7 linked regions of the Homo sapiens genome follow. The protein of the gene in region 5 purifies or fractionates together with the protein of the main gene of each other region. This does not show direct contact. Each region holds a gene or a part of one and is shown on either strand. Other genes may lie near its edges. The genes, in order: CHM, VPS13C, CIP2A, EXOC6, RAB11A, FTSJ1 and TM9SF2.

Region 1 (4,148 bases), on a different chromosome or scaffold from region 5:
AGAAATATAATAATAAACACCAGGCTTTATATATATATTCCCTTACCCCTTTTATCAAGTTCAGTGTACGTTTTGCTTATGTGACTCAGACATTAAACATTCATCTGTTAATGTTTCAGTAAAATATGAAACAAAATTAAGATTTGAAAGATATAAAGATTTCATGTCACATGCACATTTTTGAGAATTTAAGACAGACAGGGGAACTGTATTGGAAGCAAATTACCACAGTGATGAAGAACACAGTCTTCAGAATAACAGATCTTGGTTCAAACCCTGACCATATGACTAGTAAGCTCTGCGAACTTAGATACTTATGTATCCTCTCTGAGACCACCTAAATTACCCTCAATTTAGGTAATTACCTAAATTACCCTCTCTGAGACCACCTAAATTACCCATCTATGACACAGAGATAATACCACCTACCACAAGGTTGTTTTGAAGATTAAATTAAGTACTGCATGCAAAGAGCCTGACACAGTGCCTGGGACATAGTAAATACTCAACAGTGGTAGTTATCAAAGATGATTATTACTGAGGAATTCCTGACTTGGTGATACGACAGAAGACCTTCAATAAAGGGAAAAATATCTGCCTTGAAAAGATTAAGTTGGCCTATCACAATGTGGTATCTAATAGGACCTTTCTGTATAATTTCCTGCCTATTTTAGTACTGATGTCTATTACTCTAGTCGAAGCCCCATTTCCAAATTTATTATTGGAGCTAACATTCTCAGTCCACCATTGTCTTGATTTATAGAACAGGCTCCCATTCAGTCTGCCTGCTTTATGAATTTCTGTGATATTTTATCCTCCACAGAACCCACTATTTTCACTGAGTTGCCACACTGCTCAATACCTGGCAGAATGCCTTGTATGTGATTGGTCTTGGCAAGTAAAAATCTGCTAGTTGACTAACAGTAGCCCTAACAGTAGCCCTTCCTTATATCAAATACCCCACAAAAAAATCTTCCTTTTCCTGTCTCTAAACCAAACCACCTTCCTTATTTACTAATCTTCTGGTTTCATCTCCACCTACTTTCCAACATGGCATCTCTAACTCCGAATTTATCAATTCTAATTGTCAAATCATGACAGTTTGGTTCATATCATTTGTTTCTTCTGTCCTTTTCTTCCCACTCTGCATAATATCACAATTCTTCCATTCTCAAACATAATCACATACTTTAGCAAACTACTTTAAGAAAAAGTTTAAATTTAACTTCCAATTAGTCTTCCTTACTCCAATTACACTCATCACTCTATTATACCATGCTCCCATAATACACATATGCAGTTTACCTTGCATGTATTTATCCATTCCTTTTTAATAGTCCTTTAGTTTTCCAGTATATCCTTTATCTTCCAAATCAGACTGTAATTCCTTGAGGGAATACCTTAGCACCGCTCCTTCTGTGCCCCTCACGACACCTACCACACTGCTCCATAGATGTGGTATCCAATAAATGCTTAATTAATAATGGTTTATACGTGCAGACTATTTTTGTTTCAAATGCGAAACAAACTTGTTGCAAAAAACACAAAAAATAAGGCCAAGAAAAAAACACGGTATTGTAAATTAGAAAGTCCGAGTTAAGTGAAAAAAAGAAGTGCCTTATTAAAAATAACACAATGAACACTACAAAAAAAAATGAGGGACAATGATAGAATAACACTCAAATGTCAAGAAATAAAATGCCATATTTACTGTTATAGTAATTCTAATAAAATCTAGTGAAGAAACAAATTGATATCATTAATGTTACATGAATATTTTTGAGATCTAGGAAACCAAAGTGAGGAAAACACCCACTTTGTTCTATCCTAGATTTATCACTTAGGAAACACTTGGCAAGTCATTTAATCTCTCTGATTCACCACATATAAAATGGGGATCAGTCCATTTGCCTTACCTTTTATGAAACTGTTGTGAGATAAGGAAGCTAACATATATGAAAAGTAGTTTATAAACTCTAAAAGGTTAATCAAAGATAAGATACTAATCAGGCCGGGCACGGTGGCTTACACCTGTAATCCCAGCACTGTGGTAGGCCGAGGTGGGTGGATCACTTGAGGTCAAGAGTTCAAGACCAGCCTGACCAACATGGTGAAACCTAGTCTCTACTAAAATGCAAAAATTAGCTGGGCGTGGTGATGGGCACCTGTAATCTCAGCTACTTGGGAGGCTGAGGCCAGAGAATCACTTGAACCCAGGAGGCGGAGGTAGCAGTGAGCCAAGATCGTCCCATTGCACTCCAGCCTGGGCAACAAGAGCAAAACTCCGTCTAAAAAAAAAAAAAAAAAACTACTCAAAAATAAGATATTGTTAAACTGCCCACAGCTCAACAGTCAACTCAAAACCTGTATACCTAGGTTTTCTGCATTCACATGACAAAAGCCCATTGGCCATATAAGCACATAATAGCATCGCTATTAACAGCATTAAGAATGAAGAGTCATAATATGAAAGGTGATTTATATATTTTCTACAGAATTGTTCACACTCTTATTCACTTTTATTATCTTGAAAACCAACAAAACTAAAGTGTGTTACATGAGGGATCTAAGGGGACAATTTTCAGCAAAAGTTCCACACCTAATTTTTTGTTTTTCAGTAAAAGTTCCATGCCTAACTCTTAAAGCAAAAGTTCCATGCCTTTAATTTTAAGAAAGGATAATTAATTACACTTTACAGATAAGACAAAATATGGCAACTTCTCTTATTACAGACTATGATGATGACACTGTGAAAACTGAGCATAGCAAATGATCTAGTCAGTGGTTCTCTATTACATTCTGTGATGGGGGCCCTATAGAGTGAATGAAATACATTAACCAGTACTGGACAACCTGGAAGATATAAGTCAAAATACTTAATTAAAGGTATAAGCGAAGAGAAGAAATTATTCTTCGGAAATTTTTTCTACATCAATAAACTATCGTTTTACTGTTCTCAACATTATAATTTGGTGAGATTCCTAGCACTACGGAAAACACAAGCAATAAAAACACAACACTGTCCTCACTTTCCATTAAAAACAACCACAGTATTTTTGGAGTTCTGCCAAGGTTGAAGTTAATACCTAATGAGAAAATATAAAGACACCCAAAAGCTCCTAAAACTCCACTGACATCCTCAGAAAGCAAAATTCTGTTCATCTAAAAGGGTTATCTTTCCCCAAATTTAAAACTTTATACTGTGGTAAAAGACATTTTCTTAAAAAGATATTCAACCTTTCAGAGAAAACCTCAGAATCCAGTAATAGTTCAATTCTACTAATTTAAAAGTGTTTGAAAACTATAAAAACACATTTACCAATTACAAAACAATGTAGCTGCATTATAAGCCTTCAAATGAACCTTGGAGTTCTAAGATATTACAATGATTTTAACATACACAGGTGCTCCTCGACTTATGATGGGGTTACGTCCTGATAAACCCAATATAGTAAGACAAAGTGCATTTAATACCCCAATAAAACCATTACAAAGTTGAAAAATCATTAAGTCGAACCATCTTAAGCTGCAGACTGTTTATCTAAAGGAAAACAATCTGCATCATTAGTTCTTATAAAAATGTTCACTATCAAAATTGATTTCACAAATTAAATTTAGTGTCATTTACATTGCTAGCTTTAATTCCAAAGGTCATTTATAATGTAACAATATTTTTTAGATAATTTTTCTTAATAAAAACTGCTTAACACTGCTTTTTGTAAATGCATTTTTCACTAATTGCCAAAATTCATATACTACTCTGAGAGTTTGGAGGTATATATTCTGATATCATCTAGTACTGCTTCCCAATTAATAGTAATAACAAAGAAACACCTCAAAGTAAATGTGTCTTATGAATACCTTGTAACAGCCTTTTAGAGGAATCAAATGAAAAACTGAGGAACAGGTGTTTAATTTATTCAGCACAGGTGTTCACCATTTATTTTTCAGCCATTTGCACCTTCTCTTACCCAATACGACTTGCTGCAGACATTGTATTCTTTTACTTTGATGTTTATACTTTGTTCTAAGGCCATTTATTTCTGATTTTCACAGTATATATTATACTGCTACCCAGCTGTTTATTCCTAAAATAAATGTTTAATGGCTATTCATAAGAATTACAAAAATCAGACTATTCAGAAATT
Region 2 (4,148 bases), 3.8 Mb from region 5:
CTTTTACAGTATTACCTGCCAGCTAGTTTGTAAGTCAGGCTTTCAGAGGTTCAGAAAAGTGCCTGGTGGGTACATACTGCCTACATAAGTAGGAAGGTTTATCTAGATTTTTGTTCCCCACAAACTGGTACCAATAGATAAATTTCACAGCCCTTAGCTATTGAGATGTGTCCAGGATATAATTGTTTTAAGAGTAACATATATTTGAAAAGGTATGTTGAAATGCCTCATCTTTTGCAATATGATTTGAGTAGTATTGTTGCAATGTAGAACCTTTGTCAATTTGATTTTTCAAAATGATTTACTGTGGAGAGTCAGCAGGAAAATCCTCCAGTACTCGGAACTCTGTTGTTCTTAATTCCACTGGACAGGTGGAATCAACATAGGAACTGTGATGTGTTAGATACAAGGGTGACTCTGGTGACCAGGAATAGAAGCCAAGTGCAATGCCCTCAGAATCTGTGGCCCTGCAAACCAGACTGAACCCGTGCTGTTTATCCCACTCCTGACAGTTTATCCCACTCTTGACACTTCCCCTTGAGCTGCCAGATATTGTTGGAGCAGTGCAGCATAAGAAAGGAGAATGAACACTGGACTGGGAATGAGCAAACCTCTTTAATCTTATTCCATCTCTGATTCTGTCTAGTTGTGTGGCTTTTGGCATGTCTCTGACAAGTGACCATTGGTTGCTTATCTGTAAGTGGAAAGGTTAGACAAGGTCATCTCTTCTGTCTTTAAACTTCTGTGATTTGAGCAAGGCAAGAACAACGTGAGATCCTTCATTGGATGAGTGGTACTGCCACTTCCTCCGCATTCATAGAGAGAAAAGGTAGTTAAATAATGTATCTTTATCTTTCCTTTTTGCTCTTCACCCGATATTGGTGAGTAAAGAGCCACAGTCAATGACAGTGACAAGATAAATGAAGTTCCAGGCTCATGCTGATATTTGTGGGTCCAAGTGTAATATACTGTAATATATTGTCTTAACAGGTACCTGTAGGGCAGCTTGAGAATGAAAGAAAAAGCAGCTCTTTTTGCTTTTTTTGGCTTTGACACATAAAAGATGTCAGTATCTAGGTATTTCTAAACCTGTAGAGGGATTTTCTTTAGTCTTTTCCTCCCAGCCAGCACTTGGTGTAGTGGAGGCCACATTTCTCATTAGCTTGTCCTATGGCATATAAAAGTAAACAATAATGAAAAGGTCATTAGTGTAATACATATTTAGGCTCAGTTACTACCAGTTAAAGCGGTGCTTAAAAATTTAAATTTAAGCACCTGTTCACATATTTAAGTAGCATTACTAATTAAAAATTAACTCCTTTTCTAGAACTAAAACTGAGAATTGGTATTTTGGTAACCATTCTGCTAGGAAGCTCTACCACATTACTCAATATTATGGGATCCCTGAAGTGAACTGAAAGGGAGAAAGTTCAGTGGTGATGTTGCAGCTTTCTACCTTCCTTTGTCAAAACTTCCTGTTTCAGTAGGGAAATGGGAAGAGTGAGAGAGTTGTTTCCTTTCTCTTTCCTGTCTTCCTCTCTGAAGACAAAGTCACTGTGAACTCATTAAAAGGAGTCTAGATTGGTTAATTTGGGTTGACTAGCTAGATTCATTTGAAATGAATAGCTATAATATTTTCTTTGGTATTCTTTTTTTTTTTTTTTTTTTTTTGAGACGGAGTCTTGCTTTGTCGCCCAGGCTGGAGTGCAGTGGCACAATCTCGGCTCACTGCAAGCTCTGCCTCCTGGGTTCACGCCATTCTCCTGCCTCAGCCTCCACAGTAGCTAGGACTACAGGCACCCGCCACCACGCCTGGCTAATTTTTTTGTATTTTTTAGTAGAGACGGGGTTTCACCGTATCAGGATGGTCTTGATCTCCTGACCTTGTGATCCACCTGCCTCAGCCTTCCAAAGTGCTGGGATTACAGGCGTGAGTCACCGCACCAGGCCTGGTATTCTTTACTAAAACATAAATCATTAAAATAATTTGATTCATGCTTTGCTTTAAAAAACTGTTCAGTCATCTACTTTAGCTCACCTCCCTGGAAAATGAATTGTGTCAGAACATTCAGATATGCTTTCAACTAAATAATGTTTATGTTATAGATACATAAACAAAATCTTAAAAAATAAATACAAAGCATTCTTTATTTCACTATTCTTTATATGCAAAGCTAGTTTCATGGATTATGGCATGGCATTTTTGTTTGTTGGATGGTTTTTGTGTTTAATCACAGTTTTGGATTAACCTCTATGTTTTATATTAAGAAAGTTGACCTAGGAGTTGGGAGACATAGATTCTATTCTTAGTACTGCCACAAAAAAATTGTATAACCTTGGATAAACTACCAGATCTCTTTAGACTTTAATTTCTTCATGTATAAAGTGAGAGGGGCTTAGATTTGAAAATCTTTATGGTCCCAAATAGTTCTAAATCATAACTTGTGAATTTCTGTCTTTTGAGGAAAAAAATAGATTTTTAAAAAGTACTAAAATGACCATTTTGTAATACCATCTCCTGCATCTGTTTTTCCCTGTGGCACTACGTTTTCTTCTGGTTATGCTCTGAACATAACCCCCTTGACTCTATCCTACCGTTCTGCCTGTGCCCTTGTTATACTAATTTTAGTTATCCTTTTTGTTTTGGATTTTTTTACGTCTCTTTGCAAATACAGAGACCAAAAGTGGAACCGACAACCACGCTGGCCTGTGAATGCTGAGTCTGATTCTTTTATGGCATTTTTGTTGTCCAGGGAGGTCGAATTACCTTCTGAATTAAAATCCTATACGCTTTATGCTCTGCTATTCGGGAGAACAGTGTTATTCTGAAGATAGCATTGAGTTTTATAAGATTTGAGCCTTGAGACTGCCACTTACTATTAGGTTGCCATAGGATTCTTGGGCTAGTCATTTAACCTCTCTAAGCCTCAGCTTCTATTGCTTAATGTATACAACCTGTTTCTTGCCCAGGAGGCTGTGAGGATTGAGTAATGTTATACATCTGAAAGTGTTTTCTAAAATATAAAGATTTATGACCTTATTGTAGTTGGTTCCACCCCAGTACAATATGCATTCTGAAGTCAGTATTTATCGAGTACCTACTCTGAGGAGAATCAGTAAGAAGTTTATAATCAGACTGGGGATTTATATAAAGTTAAGTGTTACGCACCATAAGAAAGCTATAGCCTAAATTTCTGCAAAAGTTTAGAGAGATTATTTCTGGTTGGAGGTACTTAACAATAGGACTATATTTCTTACATTTATTTTGTAGGCCATTATGTATTTAAAAAGCCATTCTTGGACTTAGGCAGGCTTTTCCTTATTGTGCTAGTACCATTTGATTTTTATTCATAAATACACTAGCTTGGTTGTTTTCTATAACTAGCAACTATTTCTACTTTTTTTTTTTTGCGATGACTCCAACTCTTCATGTCATTTGCTAATTTACTTCCATTTTCATCTTCTGGTTCACTGTTGAAGAATACTAAATTTTGATCCAGTTTTGATCCAGGATTTACTTTTTTTTTTTTTTTTTTTTGAGACTGGGTCTTGCTCTGGCTGTCACTGAGGCTGGAGTGCAGTGGCATGATCCTGGCTCACTGCAACCTCTGCCCTTCTGGTTCGAGTGATTCTTCTGCCTCAGAATCCTGAGTATCTGAGATGACAGGCACCTGCCACCATGCCTGGCTAATTTTTTTGTATTTTTTAGGTAGAGACAGGGTTTCGCCATGTTGGCAAGGCTGGTCTCCAACTGCTGGGCTCAAGTGATCCAATCGCCTTGGTCTCCCAAAGTGTTGGGATTACAGGCATGAGCCACTCACTGCACCTGGCCCTTTTAGTATATTTCTTAAAATATCTTTCAAGATTGGCTTTGAAACTATGGTGACTTTCTAGCAGTGTATGCACATCCAAAATATATGTAGTTTATTAATGAGAATCATATGGGGTCTCTTCTGAAGCACAGACTACTTACTGTGTATATTGTCTACCCTCCTCCCATGGGCCTGTCAGTCCAGCATAAGGGAGATCGCTTCACAGAATTTCCTTATCTGTCACCTTAGTCTGTTTAGACTTGGTAGGATTAGAGCCACTTGATTGTGGGATTGGCTTTAGAGCTTTCCTTGCTGGCAGAGTTAAGTTTATTCATC
Region 3 (4,148 bases), on a different chromosome or scaffold from region 5:
AATAAATTCATATGAAATAAATTCTGTATGAATTATCTGCAAAACCTTGTAAGAAAATGATATATTTTGTGCTTTTATTTTAACTTATAGCAGTAGACATTGAAACCAGAGATTGTCTTCAGAATACATATAATCTGAATAGTGTGCTGGCGGGAGTGGTTTGTCGGAGCAGCCACACTGATTCGGTGTTTTTGCAGGTATACAGACCCACACAGTGTATTCCCCTTTCCTTACTGTCAGATCAAAATTGATAGTTTCTGTCATAAACTGCTGACTTACAGTGTATATATGCTATATAATAAATACTACATGATTAGGCACAGTTCATCTCATTAAAAGCTGGTTGCACACATACAATTTAAATGTTTCTAGAGAAGAGAAGCTTATCCATTTCTATCACCACTATTGAAGAAAAACAAATCTACATTATAACTGCTTTGACTTATAAACACAGATGTCTGTGTTTTGAGACATAAGCTATTTATATTAAAATTGTAACGTGAGTTGGCATCTAGTCTCAATCTGTGGAGGAAACGTTCTACAAAAATTAAAGCTGTAGATAGAGTCTATTTAATATAGATTCAAAGCTCTTCATATTTCATTGACTCTAAAATGTCATCAATTGTAAGAAAGAAAAACATCACAAATTAAATTGACATGCAGTTTTAGAGGTGATAAAATGTGAAGAAGGGTATCTTCTAATTGATGGACTACATGTGTGTTTCAAACTGCATTCAAGTTTAAGATGACTAAGTGAACAAGGTTGATAACCATGCTCTGAGACAGAATACGTAGAAATGTGTGAATTGAGAGAAGAGCCCTAAGGTTCTTACATTACTTTACATGTGTTTTTTAAAAAAATTGTTTTAGGAAATGGAAAAGGACATGCTCAGAATGTGCCTGAGAGTCCATTATTTTAAGCAGGCAATGTTTTTATATCTTTATATTTATAACTATTTTCTTATTCTCAGTGCATTCAACTTCTACAGAAGTTAACATATAATGTCAAAATTTTCTATTCTGGTGCCAATATAGATGAATTAATTACGTTCCTGATAGATCACATGTGAGTATGCAATCAAACATAAAACCAAATAGTTTATTTGTTTATTTTTAAATTACAACCATGTGGTAGATTAATTTTTCTTAGATAACATTTTCTAACATATAAACTGAGTGAGACTCCGATTCTTATTTGTTCTGCCCAGATGATTTTAAGGATCAAAAGTTGTAAAAGTATGTGACCTCATTCATTGGTGAAAAAATGTAAAAAGGAAAAAAAAATTGTAAAGCAACTTTAATTTTCATAAGAAAAATTTATGGACTGAATTGATTTGGCCAGAAAAAAATTACTGAAATTGAAAATTGTGTAGTTATTCTTGTAGGAAAATATACTGATGAAACAGCACATGGTCCACGCTGACAGTTACTTCCATGTTTTCATGATGGAATTGAATAGGGTAATTTGGTTTTAAAATGAGATAAATGATCAATACTATTCAAAGCTTCCCTGGCTTCTTATGTTAATTAGTTTTTTTTTTTGCGTGTAAAAGGGAATTGAAATGTATAAACTTAACTATATCATTTTGACTTAGAATAATGTTAATGCTTTTTTTCTTTTACTATTTTTTCTTTAAACAAAACACCAATGTAAAACAACAGTCAATCTTCTGAAGATGAGTTAAAAATGCCTTGTCTAGGATTATTGGCAAATCTTTGTCGGCACAATCTTTCTGTTCAAACGCACATAAAGACATTGGTAAGAAGTTTATTTCTTTTTAATGTTTCTTGTTTTATGGTAGATTCTCTGCTTAAAGAAAATTGTATTTATCTTTTTCTTTAAAACAAATTTGAACAAGGATTCTGTGTCTTATCGGATGACCCATCAAAATTAAGAGTCAGATTGACATACAAATAACTTGAAGCACTTCAGCCTTCGTGTATGTTGTATTGAAGACTGTGTGTTAAGGGTTAATGCAAACACTTATTTCTAAAAGTTTTCCTCAGCATGGCATCCCATTATTTATTACATTGAGTAGTACAAGAATTACTAAATTATTTTGTGCTCTTAGAAGGGAGGCACATCACTGGCAGTCCCATTTATCTCAGTCTTGTGTTTCCACAAAATCAATGGCAACCCCACCAGAAAGATTCATGAGTTAAGTGCTCAGTATGAACCAACAGTACTTGTGATAAATGAAGACACACAAATGAATTTAACTGAATCACTTTTAGAAGTATATTAAATCAGCTGGGCATGGTGGCTCACACCTGTAATCCCAGCACTTTGGAGGCCAAGGCAGGCAGATCACAAGGTCAGGAGATGGAGACCATCTCGGCCAACATGGTGAACCCTGTCTCTACCAAAATACAAAAAATTAGCCAGGCGTGGTGGCACACGCCTGTAGTCCCAGCTACTTGGGAAGCTGAGGCAGGGGAATTGCTTGAACCCGGGAGGTGGAGGTTGGAGTGAGCTGAGATCGCGCCACTGCCCTCCAGCCTGGCAACAGAGTAAGACTCCATCCTTAAAAAAAAAAACAAAGTATATTAAATCAAGCAAGTCACTGATTCTTTAAGGTGCTTGGTGAACAATTTCCCTGCTGTGCTATTCAGCATTACCCGTTCGATTTTAAATTTAATATCTCACTTGTTCAAGTGCTACATTTTTCTGCCCTGGTCTTACTTTGGAGGTGGAGTAACTGTGTGTGTGTGTGTGTGTGTGTGTGTGTGTGTGTGTTTCAATTTCTGAATTGAAAAAAAAGTTCATATGTTCATATTTAGGAAACACTTAAATATAAGGAAGAATAAACATTTGCTCATAGTTTCATGTGTAGAAACTGCTCTTCACCAAGATTGTGGCTATCTATATGACTGTCAGCAATATACGAAACTACCCATCTTGCTCACACATGCAGTGATCTCTTAAATCTAAATGCTAATCAGCAAATATGGCAAAGTTAATTGCTGCTCCACGGTGTGTAACGTAAAACAAATTCTTAAATTTGCTGAATTTTTTTTGCTTCCACCACAATTATGAGAGTTCCTCATTACAGTTCTTTTGTTAACACAAATGCTAACAAATGCTACAGTTCTTTTGTTAACACAAATCCTGCAGTATTTAAGGTAGCTCTTTTGTTTCCACTCTGCATGTGTCCCTTTATTAGAATTGACACCCTGATTTACCATCATTGAATTATTTATTCTAAGGTGACAAAACTTTGGAAATATTTATCTCCAACTCGTTTGCACGCATTTACCAAATTATTTTTTTCTGTAGGTACTCTCTTTATAACAATTTTTGAATTTAAATTTATCTCTGATCTAAATTTCTCCTGTAGAACATTTATCTTTTAAATGCAACAATCATTTAATAGAGTTGATAATGATGTTTAATAAAAGTTTGCCCACTCTGTGCAAGATATACTTTTTAAACCAAAACATAAAATTTATAATTCTAATTTATTTTTTAACTTTTTTTTCCTCAGAGTAATGTGAAATCTTTTTATCGAACTCTTATCACCTTGTTGGCCCATAGTAGTTTAACTGTGGTTGTGTTTGCACTTTCAATATTATCCAGTTTGACATTAAATGAAGAGGTGGGGGAAAAGGTAAATACAATTTTTCAAATTTATTCTGAAGTTTATAGTCTGATATTTTAAAAGTCATTGAGACTTTTTTATTTTTACCTTTTAGGATGGTGTCAACTTAATTTTTTGTCTAATATGCTTTTTCTAATTTGTCCTTAAGCTATTCCATGCTCGAAACATTCATCAGACTTTTCAACTAATATTTAATATTCTCATAAACGGTGATGGCACTCTAACTAGAAAGTATTCAGTTGACCTACTGATGGATCTCCTTAAGAATCCTAAAATTGCTGATTATCTCACCAGGTATGACTCACTTCAGTCAATTTTAGAACTTTTTTATTTTTAAACCAAGATGTGTTGGTTATAAACAGAATTGTCTTCTTAAAATATAATAAACTTGGATTCTACTGATTCACAGTAGACTAAAATGTTTTGATGTGCTTTACTCACACTCTTTTTTCTTTCCTGAACTGAAATGGAAAGTATAACAGGTCATTGTCTATGTGTGTATTTCAGTCTTTGCTTTAGATCAATAGGGTTGTGCCATTCTCCAAAATA
Region 4 (4,148 bases), on a different chromosome or scaffold from region 5:
CAACCTGGGTGACAGAGCAAGACTCTGTCTCAAAAAAAACGAAAGAAAGAAATAGGCAATAGAAACTGCTTATGAGATGGCCCAGATGTTGGATGTAGCAGACTTCAAAGCAGCCATAATAACTATGCTCACAGAACTAAAAAGAAGAAGCAAAGGAAAGTATGATGACAATGTCTTACCAAATAGAGATGGATAAAGAAGTAGAAATTATTTTTTTTAATAATTGGAAATTCCAGAGTTGAAAAGTCAGTAACATAAATGAAAAATTCATTGGAGGGTCCCAACAGTGGATGTGAATTGGCAGAAGGAAGAATCAGTGAATATACAAGACAGTCTGATTATGCAATCAGAGAACAAGAGAGAAAAAACAGTAAGAGAGAAAAAAGAACAGGAGAGAAAAAAGAATAAGGAAAATGAACAGAGTCTCAAATAAATGTGGACATCATTAAGCACACCAGCATACATGAGATGGGAGCACCAAAGTAGAGAAGAGAAAGGAACAGAATGACTATTTAAAGAAATAATTTAAAATTTCCAAAATTTGATGAAAAACATTAACCTACATATCTAAGAAGATCAACAAACTCCAAGTAAGATAAACATAAAGAGATCCATATCCAGGTACATCATAGTAAAATAATGAGAGACAAACGGAAAATCCTGAAAACAACAAGAAACTGCTGATTACATAAGGGAATTCCAATAAGATTAACAGCTGACTTCTCATCAGAAATAATGAAGCCCAGAGGCAGTGGAAAGACATATTCAAACTGCTGGCCGGCGGAGGGGGGGAACCCGTCAACTAAAAATCTTACATATGGTAAAACTATCTTTCAAAAATGAAGATGACATAAAGACATGCCCAGATTTTAAAAAAACAGACAAACAACAACAACAAAAAAAACAGGAAATAGTTTCAAGCAGACCAGCCTTACAAGAAATACAAAAGGAATTTCCTCACGATTAAGAGTGAACTCAGATGACCATTTGATCACACACAGACACACAGACCAGACACACACAGACACACACAAAGAACACCAGTAAAGGTAACTATGTAATTATAAAATACAGTATAAATGCATACTTCTCATTTCTTATCTGATTTGTGGAAGCAGTTGCATAAAACTACATGTACATAATTGTATTGGTGGCATGCAACATATAAAATATATATAGAATATATGTAATACAATGGACAATCACAACACAAAGGATGTATGTGGGAGCAAAGCCATTCTGGAGTAAGAAAATGACACAAGATGACAACTAAAAACCCAGCAACAAATGAAAAGAATCAGAAACAGTAAATAAGAAACTTAATATAACAAACTTTAAAAATACATATTGGTCTCTGTTCTTCTTTCTGCTTCTTTAAAAGACAAAAAATTATAAAAAGTAACAATTATAGTAATGTATTATTGTAATAACACAAAAAAAGGGAAAGAAGGAATATAGCTATATAAGAGTAACATTTCTATACCTTACTGGAAATTAGACTAATTCTGAAGTAGATTCTGAGAGCAACCACTAAGAACTAACTTTTTTCTAAATTCCCAAAAAATCACTAATTAAAATATTACACCAGAAAATATTTGCTTAATGCAAAAGCAGCAGTAAAAAAGGAATAGAGGAGCAAAAAAAAAAAGGAAGAAAGAAATGAGACATAGAACACAAGAAAAACAGCAGATGTGAATCCAACTATGTAAATAATAACATTAAATATGAATAAACAATCAAAAGGCATAGGTTCTCAAATTGGATAAAAATAAGATCCAATGATGTGCTATCTACAAGAGATACACTTTAGATTTAATGACATATTTAAAAGTAAACAGAAAAACATATATCATGAAAAGAGCAACTATAAGAAAGCTGCAGCAGCTATACTAATATCTGACATAACAGACTTTAAAACAAGTCTAGAAATAAAGGATATTTTATGACGGCAAATGGTCAATCAATAAGGAATATATAAAGTATAAACATATATGCATCTAACAACAGAGCCTGAAAAGACATAAAAACTACTCATCATTCAATAATGGATAGAACAACTAAGCAGAAGACCAAAAGGGAATAGGAGACGTGAACAATACTCTAAGCTAATTAGACCTAACAGACCTCTATAGAATACTCCCTCCAACAACAGTAGGATACACAGTCTTCTCAAGGGAACATGGAACATTCTCCAGTACAGACTATGTTAGGCAATAAAATAAGCCTCAATAAACTTAAAATAAACTGAAGTCATACAAATTATTATCTCTGACTGCAATGGGATTAAATTAGAAATTAATAACAGAAGGACATTTTAGAAATTCACAAATATGTTGAAATTAAGCACACTTCTAAATAACCAGTGAAAGAGGAAATAATAAGGAAAACTAAAGATATTTTGAAGAAAGGTAAATGAAAACACACATGCCAAAAAGTTTTAGATGAAGCTAATGCTGTTCTTAGAGAAAAATTTATAGCTGTAAAAACCAATATTAAAAAATAAGAAAGATCTCAAATTAATAACCCAAACTTCCATCGTAAGGTTGGGTTCCATCATAATAAAAAAGAGAGCAACCCAACCCAAAACAAGCAGAAGAAAGAAAGTAATAAAGATTAGATCAGATGTAAATGTAACAGAAAAACAATAGAGAGGCCAGGTGCAGTGGCTCATGCCTGTAATCCCAGAAATTTTGGAGGCAAAGGCAGGCAGATCACCTGAGGTCAGGAGTTCAAGACCAGCCTGGCCAACGTGGCAAACCCTATCTCTACTAAAAATATAAAAATTAGCCAGGCATGGTGGCATGTGCCTGTAATCCCAGCTAGTCGAGAGGCTGAAACAGGAGAATCGCTTGAACCCAGGAGGCGGAGGTTGCAGTGAGCCAAGATCGCGCTACTGCACTCCAGCCTGGGCAACAGAGCAAGACTTCATCTCAAAAAAAAGAAAAAACAAAAACAATAGAGAAAAAAATCAATAAAACAGAGAGTTGGTTCTTTGAAAAGATCAACAAAATTGACAAACCTTTATCTAGAATGACCAAGCAAAAACAAAGACTCAAATTACTAAATTCAAGAACAAAAGAGAGAATGTTACAGAAATAAAAATAAGAAAAAGTTATGAGCAATTATATGTCAACAACTAAAATAATCTAAATGAAACACAACAAATTCCTAGAAAGACACAAACTATCAAAACTAACTCAAGAAAACTAGAAAATCTGAGTATACCTTTAACAAGTAATGAAATGGAATCAGTAATCGAAAACTTCCCAACAAAGAAAATACACATGGCTTAACTGGAAAATTTTACCATATATTTAAAGAATTAACATTAATCATTCACAAGCTCTTCCAAATGTGGAAGAGAAGCGAACACTTCCTAACTCATTCTATAAGGCCAGCATTACCCTGATACCAAAGCCAGATAAAGACATCACCAAAAAAAGAAAATTACAGAGCTGGGCATGGTGGAACATGCCTGTAGTTTCAGATACTCAGGAGGCTGAGGTGGGAGAACTGCATGAGCTCCAGAGTTCAAGACCAGCCTGGGCAATGTAGCAAGATCCTGTCTCAAACATAAATTAAAAAAAAAAATTTTCATGCCAGGCACAGTGGCTCATGCCTATAATTCCAGCTACTCGGGAGGCTAAGGTAGGAGGACTGCTTGAGGCCAGAAGTACAAGATCAGTCTGGGCAACACAGTGAGATTTTGTCTCTAAAAAAATTACAGAAATCCCTCATGAATATAGATGTAGAAATTCTCAATAAAATACTAGCAAACCAAATCCAACAGTATATTAAAGAGGATTATACACTATGGCCAAATGAGATTTATCCTAGGAATGCAAGGGTAATTAAACATGAGGAAATCAATCAATGTAATGTACCACATGAATAGAATAAAGGGGGGAAAAAACCCAAATACTCATCTCAATTGAGAGAGCACCAACTCATTCTATGAGGTATCATTCTCATATCAAAGACATCACACACACACACACAAAAAACAGATCAAAATATCTTATGAATACACATGCAAAAATCCTCAACAAAATACTAGCAAACAGAATCCAACAACATATAAAAAGGATTATACTTTATGCACTATGATCAAATGGGATTTATCCCATGAATACAAAGTTGGTTTACAT
Region 5 (4,148 bases):
TTATATAAGTAGAGATGCAGGTCTCACTAGGTTGCCCAGCCTGGTCTTGAACTCCTGGCCTCAAGAGTTTCTCCTGCCTCCATCTCCCAAAATGCTGAGATTACAGGCATGAGCCACCATGCCCGACCCTACTTACACTTTAATATTTACACTTTAATAGATTAAAAATAATAGCAAGAGAGCTGGGCATGGTGGCTCACTCCTGTAATCCCAGGACTTTGGCAGGCCAAGGCAGGCGGATTGCTTGAGCCCAGGAGTTCAAGACCAGCCTGGGCAACATGGCAAAACACTGGAGAGAGGTTTTGCTCTCTCTATATAAAGAATACTAAAAATTAGCTGAGCGTGGTGACACACACCAGCAGTCTCAGCTACTTAGGAGGCTGAGGTGGAAGATCACTAGAGCCCAGGAGGTCGAGGCTGCAGTGAGCCTTGACTGTGCCACTCCACTCCAGAATGGGTCACAGAGTGAGATCCTGGCTCCCAAAAAAAAAAAAAAAAAAAGTGAGAAATTGTCAATTGGCTCCTTAATTAAAATAAATACTTGTTATATCTAAGTACTACTCACTAGTGACGAATGACACCACTTAAAATGTGGTAAAAATGTATCAAGTGCCCAGTTATTTCCATCTCTTGCTATCCTCTCCATCAACTACATTGGCTATAGTATTCCGTATGTTGTAGCCATATTATTTACAATAAAGCTATTCTTGCATGGGAAATTTAAAAAACTGTTACAGAAAGTTATTCATAGCATAAGCATTAGTGCAAAGGCAAGACTTTCTCTCTTTTTTTGTTTGTTTTGTTTTGTTTTTTTGGGACGGAGTCTCGCTCTTTCGCCCAGGCCGGACTGCAGTGGCGCTATCTCGGCTCACTGCAAGCTCTGCTCCCGGGTTCACGCCATTCTCCTGCCTCAGCCTCCCGAGTAGCTGGGACTACAGGCGCCCGCCACCGCGCCCGGTTTTTTGTATTTTTAGTAGAGACGGGGTTTCACCATGTTAGCCAAGATGGTCTCAATCTCCTGACCTCATGATCCACTCACCTCAGCCTCCCAAAGTGCTGGGATTACAGGCATGAGCCACCACGCCCGGCCGCAAGACTTTCACTAGCCACAATGCACAATGTTGTCTTCTGGCATGCTGTCCCTACCAGAACAGGGGCAAGAGACACGTGAATTCTTTATGAAGCCAAAAAGTTACAGCTCCTAAGCAGCTGCATCCCTGTTGGTCCCTGACACTCCCTGAGCCTCTGCCTTTCACTCACATAGAGCTCACGTACAGCAGCCTTTGTAAACACAGAAACATAACAGAAAAAGAGACAGAATATACAATGTTTATATTCATTTTTTGGCAGCAAAATATTAGTGTTTTAATGACTCAAAGCAAAAAAGCTATACAGTCATCACAAACTTTCAAAACAATTCTTGCTAAGCATTCATGTTTACCTCTCTGAAACTATTATAACCTATTACTCTCATTGGAAGGTATCAAAACCACAAGACACAATGGTAAGAAATATCATGGAATTCCTATCACTAACCTGCAAAAGCTCTTGCTTCATCTGTAGGAACTGCCCTGAGATGACGTAGATCACTCTTATTGCCCACAAGCATGATAACAATGTTACTATCAGCATGATCTCTCAGTTCTTTCAGCCATCGCTCTACATTTTCATATGTGAGATGTTTAGCAATGTCATAAACCAATAAGGCACCTACAGCTCCACGATAATATCTGAAAACAGAAACATATTTAGTATCAGAAAACCACAAGATGGAAGCAAACACCAGGAAGAACTCAAAATATGGATCATGAGTTTTAAAAACATACTTATAAATAAATTTCTAAGGATTCCTAATACTAGAATTCTTAAAAGAAAAAAACAACAGTTCTTTTTCCAATACCAAAAGTCAGCTAATTCACTCGATGGCAACCCATTTCACAGAACTTAAAAACCATGAGACTTACGCTGATGTTATAGCTCGATATCGCTCTTGCCCTGCTGTGTCCCATATCTGTGCCTTTATTGTTTTTCCATCAACCTGGATGCTTCTTGTTGCAAACTCTACTCCAATGGTGCTCTTGCTTTCCAGATTAAACTCATTTCGAGTAAATCGAGACAGGAGATTACTCTTTCCAACACCAGAATCTCCAATAAGGACAACTGGAAAGACAAAGAATTCAATGTCAGATGAATGAGGCAAACATATTCAGAACACCACTATGCTTTCAACAGAATGAAGTTTGGCTTCAGAGTAAATAAAGCAAGAAAAATAAGGTATATGACTTTTAAAAAGGAATGGGGGTAGGGGGTTGAACAGCATGTTCTTGACCAGTTACCAATCAATAAAACCGATTTATTCTTTTCAACCTGTTTCTACCTGCATGACTTCCACATATCATCTGCTTAGCACAGATACGGTACCCTGTCTTAAACATGCAGTTTTAATCACAGATGCCCTTGGCATTGATGACAGGCATTAATTACCGTCAATGCTATGCCAATCTTACTACTTTAGAAGATAACAACTTCAAAGATAAATCCTAAACTAAATGAATAATTTATGATATTAAAATGTAATGTATCAGAAATGAAAACAACAAAGGCTGTTAGTGGGTAGGGAAGGACAAAATGAATATACTTCGTTTCATCAAAGACTGGGTGTGACCTCAGGACTGAGACCTAGGCAAAATGAAAAACATTTAACATATGAGGCATAGGGTTTATAAACATCACCATACAGATCACAGAAACTAAAATGACCTTTAATAGTTGCATTTATCAGATTGGTTCAAAGTTAGAGACCCCTCTGCCAAAAAAACCCAAGCCACTACAGATAAACAGGGGGTATTAGGAAACTAATAATTCTGACATACTGTGAGTCAAAACCAAAGCAAGTGCCGGGTGTGGTGGCTCACACCTGTAATCCCAGCATTTTGGAAGGCCAAGGTGGGCGGATTGCTTGACGCCAAGAGTTCGAGACTAGCCTGGCCAACATGGTGAAAACCCCATCTCTATAAAAATACAAAAATTAGCCAGGTGTGGTGGTGGGCGCATGTAATCCCAACTACTTGTGGGCCTGAGGCATGAGAATAGCTTGAACCCGGGAAGCAGAGGTTGCAGTGGGCCGAGATTGTGTCACTGCACTCCAGCCTGGGCGACACACTGAGACTCTGTCTTAAAAAAATAAATAAAATAAAATACAACAAAGCAAGGAGGGCATATACTTTCACTTATGACTCCATGATTTTTTTGAAAATAGGTCTTGATTAGATGAATTTGCTTCCTGTGATTTCTATAGGCAGCAGTTTATTTACTAACTAGATACATGGAGATTCTTTTTCACTCAAAGTGGTATTACGCTTAAGAATTTCAAAAACAATGGAGAAACAGGCAGTTAAGTTGTTTTAAAACATTTTCTATCTGAATTTAAAGTTCAAAATGAGTTCACACGTTTATAGAATCTGAGCTAGATATTTTTTCCTTTGTAAAAATTGGTATCAGCATTTCAGGAAACATTACATTCGTTCCTACTTTTGACTACTAAGACTTCTTCTTATCTAAACTAGCTAATTGATTTAGACATCAGGACTAGAAAATCAAACATACAAAAATAAGGCCAAGGAGTAAGACCATTCCTTACTAAAGAGACTGGGATGGTGGTACGAGTGGAAAGAATGGTAAAAACTGAGAGCTCACTGCATTCTGGTCAGAGGGCAAAGAGAGTCCATTATACATTCCCTCCTTGCCACAGGAGTGGATATAAGCTAGCCTCTGGACAGTCTTGGACAGAGTACATTATCAAATGCATATCTTTCTGGCTTTCTCAGTCAGCTGATTCAGCAAGAAATCATTCAGGAGGCAGTGAATCCAATGCAGCACAAAGAATGGTTATTTCTAACTAGAGAGTCAACTAGAGGGTGTCAAAGATGCTGTGGCAAACACATACATGCTTTTATTTGATATCAGAAGAAAATGTCAAAGTTATTAAAGTGATGTACAAAAGCAATGCACTTTCAATTTTATAGGATGGTTAGTTGATATACTAGTTTCCAAGGTCCACCATTCTGGATATGAAGTCAAATCTCAGTTTCAGTTAATAGTCTATTATTAATAGGATACATTCACTGTTGCCTCTTAGTACAAAAGGC
Region 6 (3,500 bases), on a different chromosome or scaffold from region 5:
GGCCAGCTGCCCCTTCCTCTTCAACGTGCAGGCCTCCTGGTATGGTGGCGAGATGGGGGGCTGTGTGGGTGGAGTGTACTTGTACTCTGAGCCGCCCTCTAGCTGCAGGGACAGAGGGGTAGGGAGATGGTGAGGACCTGGTAACCTAGGACAGCCTCCCTCCCACCCACCTACTGTTGGTTGGGCACTCACGTCCAGTGGGTAACTGCGGTCCGAATCATAGGAGCTCAGGTCCCCACAGGTCACAAAAGGCACAATGATGCGGGTGGGACCATCCAGCTGGTTGAAATCTGGGTCTTAGGAACAGGGGGAGACAACTGAGGACAAGGTCAGGATGCCTGGGGCCAGTCATGACACAGGCGGCGGTATGGCTGCCAAACCCTCCCCACATATCCACCAGCTACTCTCTTCCCACCCCACCAGAAATCCTTCATTTGGTTCAGATCACCTCCTCGGGGAGGCCCTCCATAATCACCCCTTCTAAAACATCGGTGCCCTGCTATTTTTCACTGCATTTATGTCCACCTGATATTGGATTATATGCTGCCTGGATGACGTCTCCCTCACTCAAATGTCATCCCAGGGGCAGGCTCTGTCTCTTCCTGCTAGAGGCTTAAGGGGCAAAAGTTTCACACCGAGGAGGTTTCCACCTGGGACATGACTGAGATCTTCCTAGGAGAGAATGTCCTTAGGCAGGTGGAGTCTCCACTGGGGCAGGGCTCAGGATCCTCCTGGGATGGAATTTTCACCAGGCCCAAGAGTTACCACTAGAGGACTGCCTGGGCTGAAGCTCCTCCCGGGACAAAATACCCATAAAGGGGTGGGATTTCCATCAGAGAATGGGGCTAAGGATCCCCTTGGGAAAAAAATTCCCATGAGGGGACAGAGCCTCCCCCAGGGGGTGAGACTGTGGGCCCTCATGGGACCTAGATTGCATAAGGTGTGGCAGAGTCCCCCAGGGTGGCCCATGCTCCAGCTCTCACCGTAAGAATGGTCCAGCAGGGGTTTGCTCAGGTCCGGGATGAAGCCCTCGGGAGGGTCATAGCCCTGACAGACAGCGAAGGCCTCTGCCAGGGGAAGGTGGAGTGAGGCATGACTGCCGCTTCCTCCTCGTGCAGTCGGCGTCCCAGAGATCCCCCTCTGCCTGCCTGGCCCCTCCACCCCACTGACCGATGCTAGAGTTCCGGCTGCTCCTGGGCTTGGCACACAGCACGCTGGAGAAGAAGACCTGCAGCTGGCTGTAGAGGAGCGTCACATCCCGGCCTCGGAATATCTGCAGGGTGAGAAGGCAAAGACAGCGGGTGAGGGTGGCCCTCAGCGACCTCCCTCTACTCCACCAAGTTCCTTGAGACTTACCTTGGCCACAAAGCAGCCCCCTGGCTTCAGGACATGTGTAGCAATGTTCAGAGCCTGTGGGCAGGACAGACGGCTGAGGCTGAGGTGGAGACAGCCAGGAGGGGGCCAAAGTGGGTCAGGGGTGGCCAGGGTTACTCACAGCTAGGAGGAGCTGGGCCTGCATATACTCATCAACATCATGGAGACCGGTTACTGTGGCAAGAGGAACAGCGTTAGGGGGGTCCCATCTGGCTCTGTGCATCTTCTTGTACCACACAGATCAGACACTAAATACATTTTCCAGGCTGTCTTACTGCTAAGGTTCCAGATGCAAATTACTGTCTGCCAACTGGATGCATATTCTGAGCTCCTAACCCTTAGGAACTCATTTCAATTCTAAAACAACCTCACACACAAGCATCATTATCATTTCCACCTCCAGCCCAGACTGTTCCTCTGAACTCCAGATTCACAAATCAGATTCTACATCTCCAATACATCCACAACCAAACTCCTGACCTACCTCCCCAAACCTGCTCCTCCCACCATCCTCCCCATCTCATCTGAGCTTTCTAATTGTTCAAATCCAAAACCTTAGTCACCTCTGATGCTCCCCCCGCATCCTCTCCTCACACCCACATCGAAGCCATTAACACATCTACTTTCAAAAGATCTGACTTGATCTTCTCCTCTCCACCACTGCCCTCACCCATTATCACTTGCCTGGACTACTCCACCCCGGAGCCCCTGCTTCTGCCCTTGGCCCTCACACAGCTCATAGTAGCCCAAGCCCAGCACAGTCCTCTTCTCCTCACAACCCTCTCATGGTTTTCTCCAAGCTCTCATCTCGGTGAAAATGCCAACAGCCTCACCATGGCCCACGAGGCCCTATAGGATCTGTCCCCTGTTACCTCTCTGATGTTACCTTTTACCACTCTCCCCCCCTCACTCTGTTCCAACCACAGTGATCTGCTTGTCATTACTCATACATAGCAAGCACCCTCCTGCCTCAGGACCTTTGCACGGGCTGCAATTTTTCCTGGATTGCTCTTCCTCCAGACATATCCATAGCTTACTCCCCCACCTCCTTTAGTCTCTGCTGTTAAGTCAGTGAGGCCTTCCCCATCCACTTGATTTAAAATTCCAACAGGTACTCCTGCTTTCCTCCTGCTCAATGATTTCCCTATGGTACCCATCCCCCACCCCACCTTTTTTTTTTGAGACGGAGTTTCGCTCTTGTTGCTCAGGCTGGAGTGCAATGGTGCGATCTCAGCTCACTGCAACCTCCGCCTCCCGGGTTCAAGCGATTCTTCTGTCTTAGCCTCCCAAGTAGCTGGGATTACAGGCACATGCCACCACACCTGGCTAATTTTTGTATTTTTAGTAGAGATGGGGTTTCATCATATTGGTCAGGCTGGTCTCGAACTCCTGACCTCAGGTGATCTGACCACCTCAGCCTCCCAAAGTGCTGGGATTACAGGCGTGAGCCACTGTGCCCGGCCTCCTCACCCCGTTTTTTTAGAGAGAGGGTCTCACTCTGTTGCCCAGGCTGGAGTGCAGTGGTGCGATCAAAGTGTACTGTAACCTCGACCTCTTGGGCTCAAGTGATCCTCCCACCTCAGCCTCCTGAGTAACTGGGACTATGGGCATGCATCACCATGCCAGCTAATATTTTAAGACAGGGTCTTGCTATGTTGCAAGGCTGGTCTCAAACTCCTGCCTCAAGTGTTCCTCTCACCTCATCCTCCCAAAGCACTGGGATTACAGGTGGAAGCCACCATGCCTGGCCCCATCCCCTTTTAATGGTACAGAGCTGAATCATTTATTTTCTTTCCCATTTGCTCCCACTAGAACATCAGCTCCATGAGGTTAAAGATTAATGGAATTTTATTCATGAATGTTTTCCCAACACAATAGGTGCTCAGTAAATGTGTGTTGAATGGCTGGCTGGCTGAAAATGAATGAACAGTGCAACGGAATTGGACAGTTGCAGAGAGATGAGAGCAGGGAAAGGTAGACAACAGACATGAAACTCAAAGGGTGGGGTGCAAGTGGGAGGAAGAGAGAGGCAGAGAGAGAACAGGCAGCAGAGGTAGGGAGAAGTTGCCAGATGTGGGAGAAAGCTGAGTGCGGAAGGGAGAGGCAGGGAGTAACTGAAGAGGTGA
Region 7 (4,148 bases), on a different chromosome or scaffold from region 5:
TCATACATGAGGCAAACTTCACTTTGGAAGTTTCTTCTCAGAGTCCAGAATGAGAGATCACATCCTTCCTGTGATCAGGGGAGGCTGACTGGATGCTCAAGAGTGCATTTGACTCTTCTGAGATTCAAGTACAGCCTTTAAAATTGACATAAGTGAAAATGTTTCCACTACAAAATATTCCCACTGTTCTTTCATTAAAAAATATGGGGGTCCTCTGGGGGTAAAAAAAAAAAAACCCAAAACCTTACAACATTCAAACAGAAGAGACATATATAATCTAATGAAAGAACAAAATGAGGGAGAAAGATTTCATACGGCCATTAGCTTTTCACAAATTACGGAAGGACCTTGTCAGCAATACGGGGAAACCCTGGCCCTACCTTATTCACGTGGTTAGCTTTGTTTGCTCTTCCCTATGTAAGCCTTCCTACTAATGAGAATTAAAATGCTATATTATATTCATAGAAATTCCCAGCTTTAAGCTGGGGCTCAGAAGTTATAAGGTGCTCAGAATCCCAAGGTGAGTAGGATACTGCTGAGAACTGAGTTTCAGGAGGCTCAGCAAGAAAATCCCCATTGTTTCCCCCCCTATTGTTTCCCCTAAAACGTGCATGACCAAGCACGTATGTGAGCAAGCACGCGCACACACCTCTGACAAGCACCAGAGTCATGATGAGCAGGAAACACATCAGGGTAGCTTTAGAAGATGTACAAGATTTCAGCTAAAATGCAACCCCTTTCTCCTCCTCGACCTGAAAAATGGACTGCCCTTCGGCAGAAAGTTCCTATTTGAGGACTTAAGGAAAATTATTCCCATCGTATTCTATCCTAGACTCTCTGAAACTTTCCTTCCTTAAAAGTTCACTTTTCTAGCTGACCGCAATAAAAACCAGAGCATCGCAGAAGACAGCTCCTAATAAGATTTGAAAGCAGGAGTTGGCTGGGTGTGGTAGCTCACGCCTGTAACCCCAGCACTTTGGGAGGCCGAGGCGGGCGGATCACGAGGTTGAGAGATTGAGACCATCCTGGACAACATGGTGAAACCGTGTCTCTACCAAAAATACAAAAATCAGCCAGGCGTGGTGGCAGGCGCCTGTAATCCCAGCTACTCAGGAGGCTGAGGCAGAAGAATCACTTGGACCTAGGAGGTGGAGGTTTCAGTAAGCCAAGATCACGCCACTGAACTCCAGCCTGGTGACAGAGCGAGGCTCCGTCTCAAAAAAAAAAAGAAAGAAAGAAAGCAGAAGTTTATCTTCAAACATTCATTCTGCTCTAAGTCTAGTTTGGCTCTCTGTCACCCAGTGCCTTCACCCTACCACCCTCTGTCCAAACCTTTTTTATGACACCTTTTCCTGACCTATTCTCTTTAGTATGACTTAACTTCTCTTTAGTATGATATAGTTACAAATTCTAGCTCTACCTATCAAAATTGTATCTCCTTAAGTTGTTAGTAGATTAAAAAAAAAAGATATCCTAGTCAGTCTTCAAACTGAACCTGAAGGTGTGAGTTTGGTTCCCAAACTTATTCAGTGCCAGACATTTGAAAATGATACTGCTCTTTGCAAAGCATTTATATAATTAATTTTATCATAAAAATTTGGAACAACTTTACTAACAAAAATAACTGTGGTATTATGTATTTAATATGTAATCAAACATAAAAAATAAATGTTTACTAAAAAATTATTAAAGGTTAGTTTCTGAATTCTCCCAGTATATTCATTTGTTGCTATTTATCAGTAGCAGGCATCAATAAAGTAAAATACATTAAATAAAGGTAAAATTTAGAAAATTCTATTCATAAACCTTTTTTATCTTCCAATTAAGGAAACTGGAAGACAGTGGAATTAACATATACCCAGAGGTAGTTTCAGAACAATCCCTGTGGCTATCAATACCTCTAAGGAACATTTATTTAAAAAAAAAAATTGTCCTAGTTGGCAAAAATTTAAATACAATTTCTGAAGTCGCTGAGGTAGCTCAAAGAAGAGAATCTTTTTATGGAGGAAGGAAGGTCTTTCCTACACACTCGCTTTCCCTAGAGGAGAGAGATCCTGCTTCCCAAATCCTCCCCAGATGAGAAGGATCTACACAGTGCTTCCTGCCCCATCCCTTCTTTTCCCACCCTCCTCCCTCCGTGGAAGCCAAGAATATCCTGGAACCCTAACCAGACTGTGCCTGCCCACGATGCCTGGGTAAAAGAGACCCTAAATGGTCCCAGTTCTGGGCTGTTTAGACTCAGATGCTGATGGTCTTAAGGACCTGTTCATCTCCAGCCCAGTGCCTCCCTGACAAAGGCTTGGTCTAGGAAGAGCTGAAGGGAGAAACCAAGAGTCAGTCTTTGGGTGCAACTAAACCTGCCCCAAGTCACTTAGATTTTGAGAACCTAAAGGATGCTCAGAAATAATCTGGCTTACCTACCCACTTAGAAAAACTGTGGTGTTTTTTGTTTTTTTTTTTGAGATGGAGTCTTGCACTGTCACCCAGGCTGGAGTGCAGTGGCGCAATCTCAGTTCACTACAACCTCCGCCTCCCAGGTTCAAGCTACTGCCTCAGCCCCACAAGTAGCTGGGATTACAGGCACCTGCCACCATGCCCAGTTTTTGTATTTTTAGTAGAAAGACGGGGTTTCACTATATTGGCCAGTCTGGTCTCAAACTCCTGACCTTGTCATCCACCCGCCTTGGCCTCCCAAAGTGCTAGGATTACAGGCATGAGCCACCATGCCCGGCCAGAAAAACTGGTTTTTAAGCAATTACTGTATTTAGAAAGTATTTTCTACTTGAAAATTTTCAGTTAACACTTACATAGAGTCACAAAGGTCATAATTAAAATCTGTGTCCCGGATCCTAGAAAGACTGATAGCAGCATCCCTTTTCTTGGAGGACGGAATATATCACCATGAACAAGTTTCCAGCCAAATTCTTCCTGGGCATCTTCCTAAAAGGGGAATGAAATCAGTTCGATTGTCTCATGGTATCAACAAGACAACTATAGACAGTTTGTTCACTGTTGAATATGCTGTTACAGAAAACAGGTTTTTTTTAAACTTAAAAATGTTAGTACCTATTTCAATTTTGAAGAATACAGCTTGACTCATGGAGCTTAATATGGCTTTGCTGAACTGTCTTATATGTCAGTTTCTTAAATTTATGACATTAAGGTCTACAAATATACTTATTGAGAAACTTTACAAAGACAATGTGATTGCTACCTAATTCTACTCTAAGTCAAGCTTTGTGATCTGACTTGATGACGATTTTTAGTCACATTCTATCCTCTTCATCCTACTCTTAATGATCTCCACAATAAGCAAATGGCATTAGCTCTCATATTCTAGCTACTTTGCTAATACAGTAAGCATGGATGTAAACATTCATTGAGCACCAACTATAAGCTCGGCTCTGTTTAAAACACCAGATACCACAGTGAGTGTAACAGAAAAATTCCTACTCTCAGGAGTACATGATCTCATTGGGAAGGCAGACAATAAACAAAATAAGTCAGGAAAGTATACTGTACATTAGATGGTAATAAGCGCTGTACAGAAAAACAGGATGTATGGGTGTGTGCAGGACAGGATGTAACATATGTGATGGCTGGGAGGGGTTCAATGGGAAGATCACATTTTGTAAAGATCGGAGGGAGGTAAGGGAACTAGCCATGTAAATGAGGGGCAGACCTTCTTAGCAGATAAAACAGTGAGCTTCGTGAAGGCTCTGAGGTGGAAACCTATGTCTGCCTGGTCTGAGGAACAGCAAGGTAGCCGGCACAGGTGCAGCAGAGTGCTGAGGTAACGTGGGGCCTTAGAAGCCACTGTAAAGCCTCTGACTCTTGCTCTGACTGAACAGAAGTCCCTGGAGGGCCGTGCTCAAGAGTGAAATGATCTGACTTCTGTTTGAGCAGTTTCACTCTGACTGCTGTGCTAAGAGATGGGAAGTAGGACAGGGTTGTGGAAGCAGAGTCACCACTGGCCTGGTTCCACATGGCAACGCTGTGCAAATTAAGATAAAACTCCATTAACAGCAATTATGTGGAACAGCCAATTATAAACAGAGTATTTTAAAATCATTTTAATATTTAATAAGACATAAAATCAATAAAAATCATAGGAAAGAGACTATAGAGTACAAACGTTAAAAGCTTAT

What was found.
Region 1: the proteins of RAB11A (region 5) and CHM purify together in Homo sapiens (affinity purification with mass spectrometry; 2 studies listed by BioGRID and IntAct, with this or other methods). This does not show direct contact.
Region 2: the proteins of RAB11A (region 5) and VPS13C purify together in Homo sapiens (affinity purification with mass spectrometry; one large-scale study listed by BioGRID and IntAct). This does not show direct contact.
Region 3: the proteins of RAB11A (region 5) and CIP2A purify together in Homo sapiens (affinity purification with mass spectrometry; one large-scale study listed by BioGRID and IntAct). This does not show direct contact.
Region 4: the proteins of RAB11A (region 5) and EXOC6 purify together in Homo sapiens (affinity purification with western blotting, with the first as the bait; one study listed by BioGRID). This does not show direct contact.
Region 6: the proteins of RAB11A (region 5) and FTSJ1 purify together in Homo sapiens (co-immunoprecipitation; one large-scale study listed by IntAct). This does not show direct contact.
Region 7: the proteins of RAB11A (region 5) and TM9SF2 purify together in Homo sapiens (affinity purification with mass spectrometry; one large-scale study listed by BioGRID and IntAct). This does not show direct contact.

The regions. Positions count from the first base shown.
Region 1 is NC_000023.11:85,964,059-85,968,206, forward strand, and holds part of CHM (rab proteins geranylgeranyltransferase component A 1), read right to left. Parts: intron 1-4,148. UniProt on the Homo sapiens protein: Substrate-binding subunit of the Rab geranylgeranyltransferase (GGTase) complex.
Region 2 is NC_000015.10:62,050,196-62,054,343, reverse strand, and holds part of VPS13C (intermembrane lipid transfer protein VPS13C), read left to right. Parts: intron 1-4,148. UniProt on the Homo sapiens protein: Mediates the transfer of lipids between membranes at organelle contact sites. Necessary for proper mitochondrial function and maintenance of mitochondrial transmembrane potential.
Region 3 is NC_000003.12:108,579,026-108,583,173, reverse strand, and holds part of CIP2A (protein CIP2A), read left to right. Parts: intron 1-90; coding exon 91-197; intron 198-971; coding exon 972-1,066; intron 1,067-1,662; coding exon 1,663-1,759; intron 1,760-3,485; coding exon 3,486-3,608; intron 3,609-3,747; coding exon 3,748-3,893; intron 3,894-4,148.
Region 4 is NC_000010.11:92,854,667-92,858,814, reverse strand, and holds part of EXOC6 (exocyst complex component 6), read right to left. Parts: intron 1-4,148. UniProt on the Homo sapiens protein: Component of the exocyst complex involved in the docking of exocytic vesicles with fusion sites on the plasma membrane.
Region 5 is NC_000015.10:65,875,344-65,879,491, reverse strand, and holds part of RAB11A (ras-related protein Rab-11A), read right to left. Parts: intron 2,161-4,148; coding exon 1,965-2,160; intron 1,731-1,964; coding exon 1,537-1,730; intron 1-1,536. UniProt on the Homo sapiens protein: The small GTPases Rab are key regulators of intracellular membrane trafficking, from the formation of transport vesicles to their fusion with membranes.
Region 6 is NC_000023.11:48,479,199-48,482,698, reverse strand, and holds part of FTSJ1 (tRNA (cytidine(32)/guanosine(34)-2'-O)-methyltransferase), read right to left. Parts: intron 1,549-3,500; coding exon 1,496-1,548; intron 1,411-1,495; coding exon 1,357-1,410; intron 1,274-1,356; coding exon 1,171-1,273; intron 1,068-1,170; coding exon 984-1,067; intron 297-983; coding exon 193-296; intron 103-192; coding exon 1-102. UniProt on the Homo sapiens protein: Methylates the 2'-O-ribose of nucleotides at positions 32 and 34 of the tRNA anticodon loop of substrate tRNAs. Requisite for faithful cytoplasmic translation.
Region 7 is NC_000013.11:99,542,655-99,546,802, reverse strand, and holds part of TM9SF2 (transmembrane 9 superfamily member 2 precursor), read right to left. Parts: intron 2,941-4,148; coding exon 2,808-2,940; intron 1-2,807. UniProt on the Homo sapiens protein: In the intracellular compartments, may function as a channel or small molecule transporter.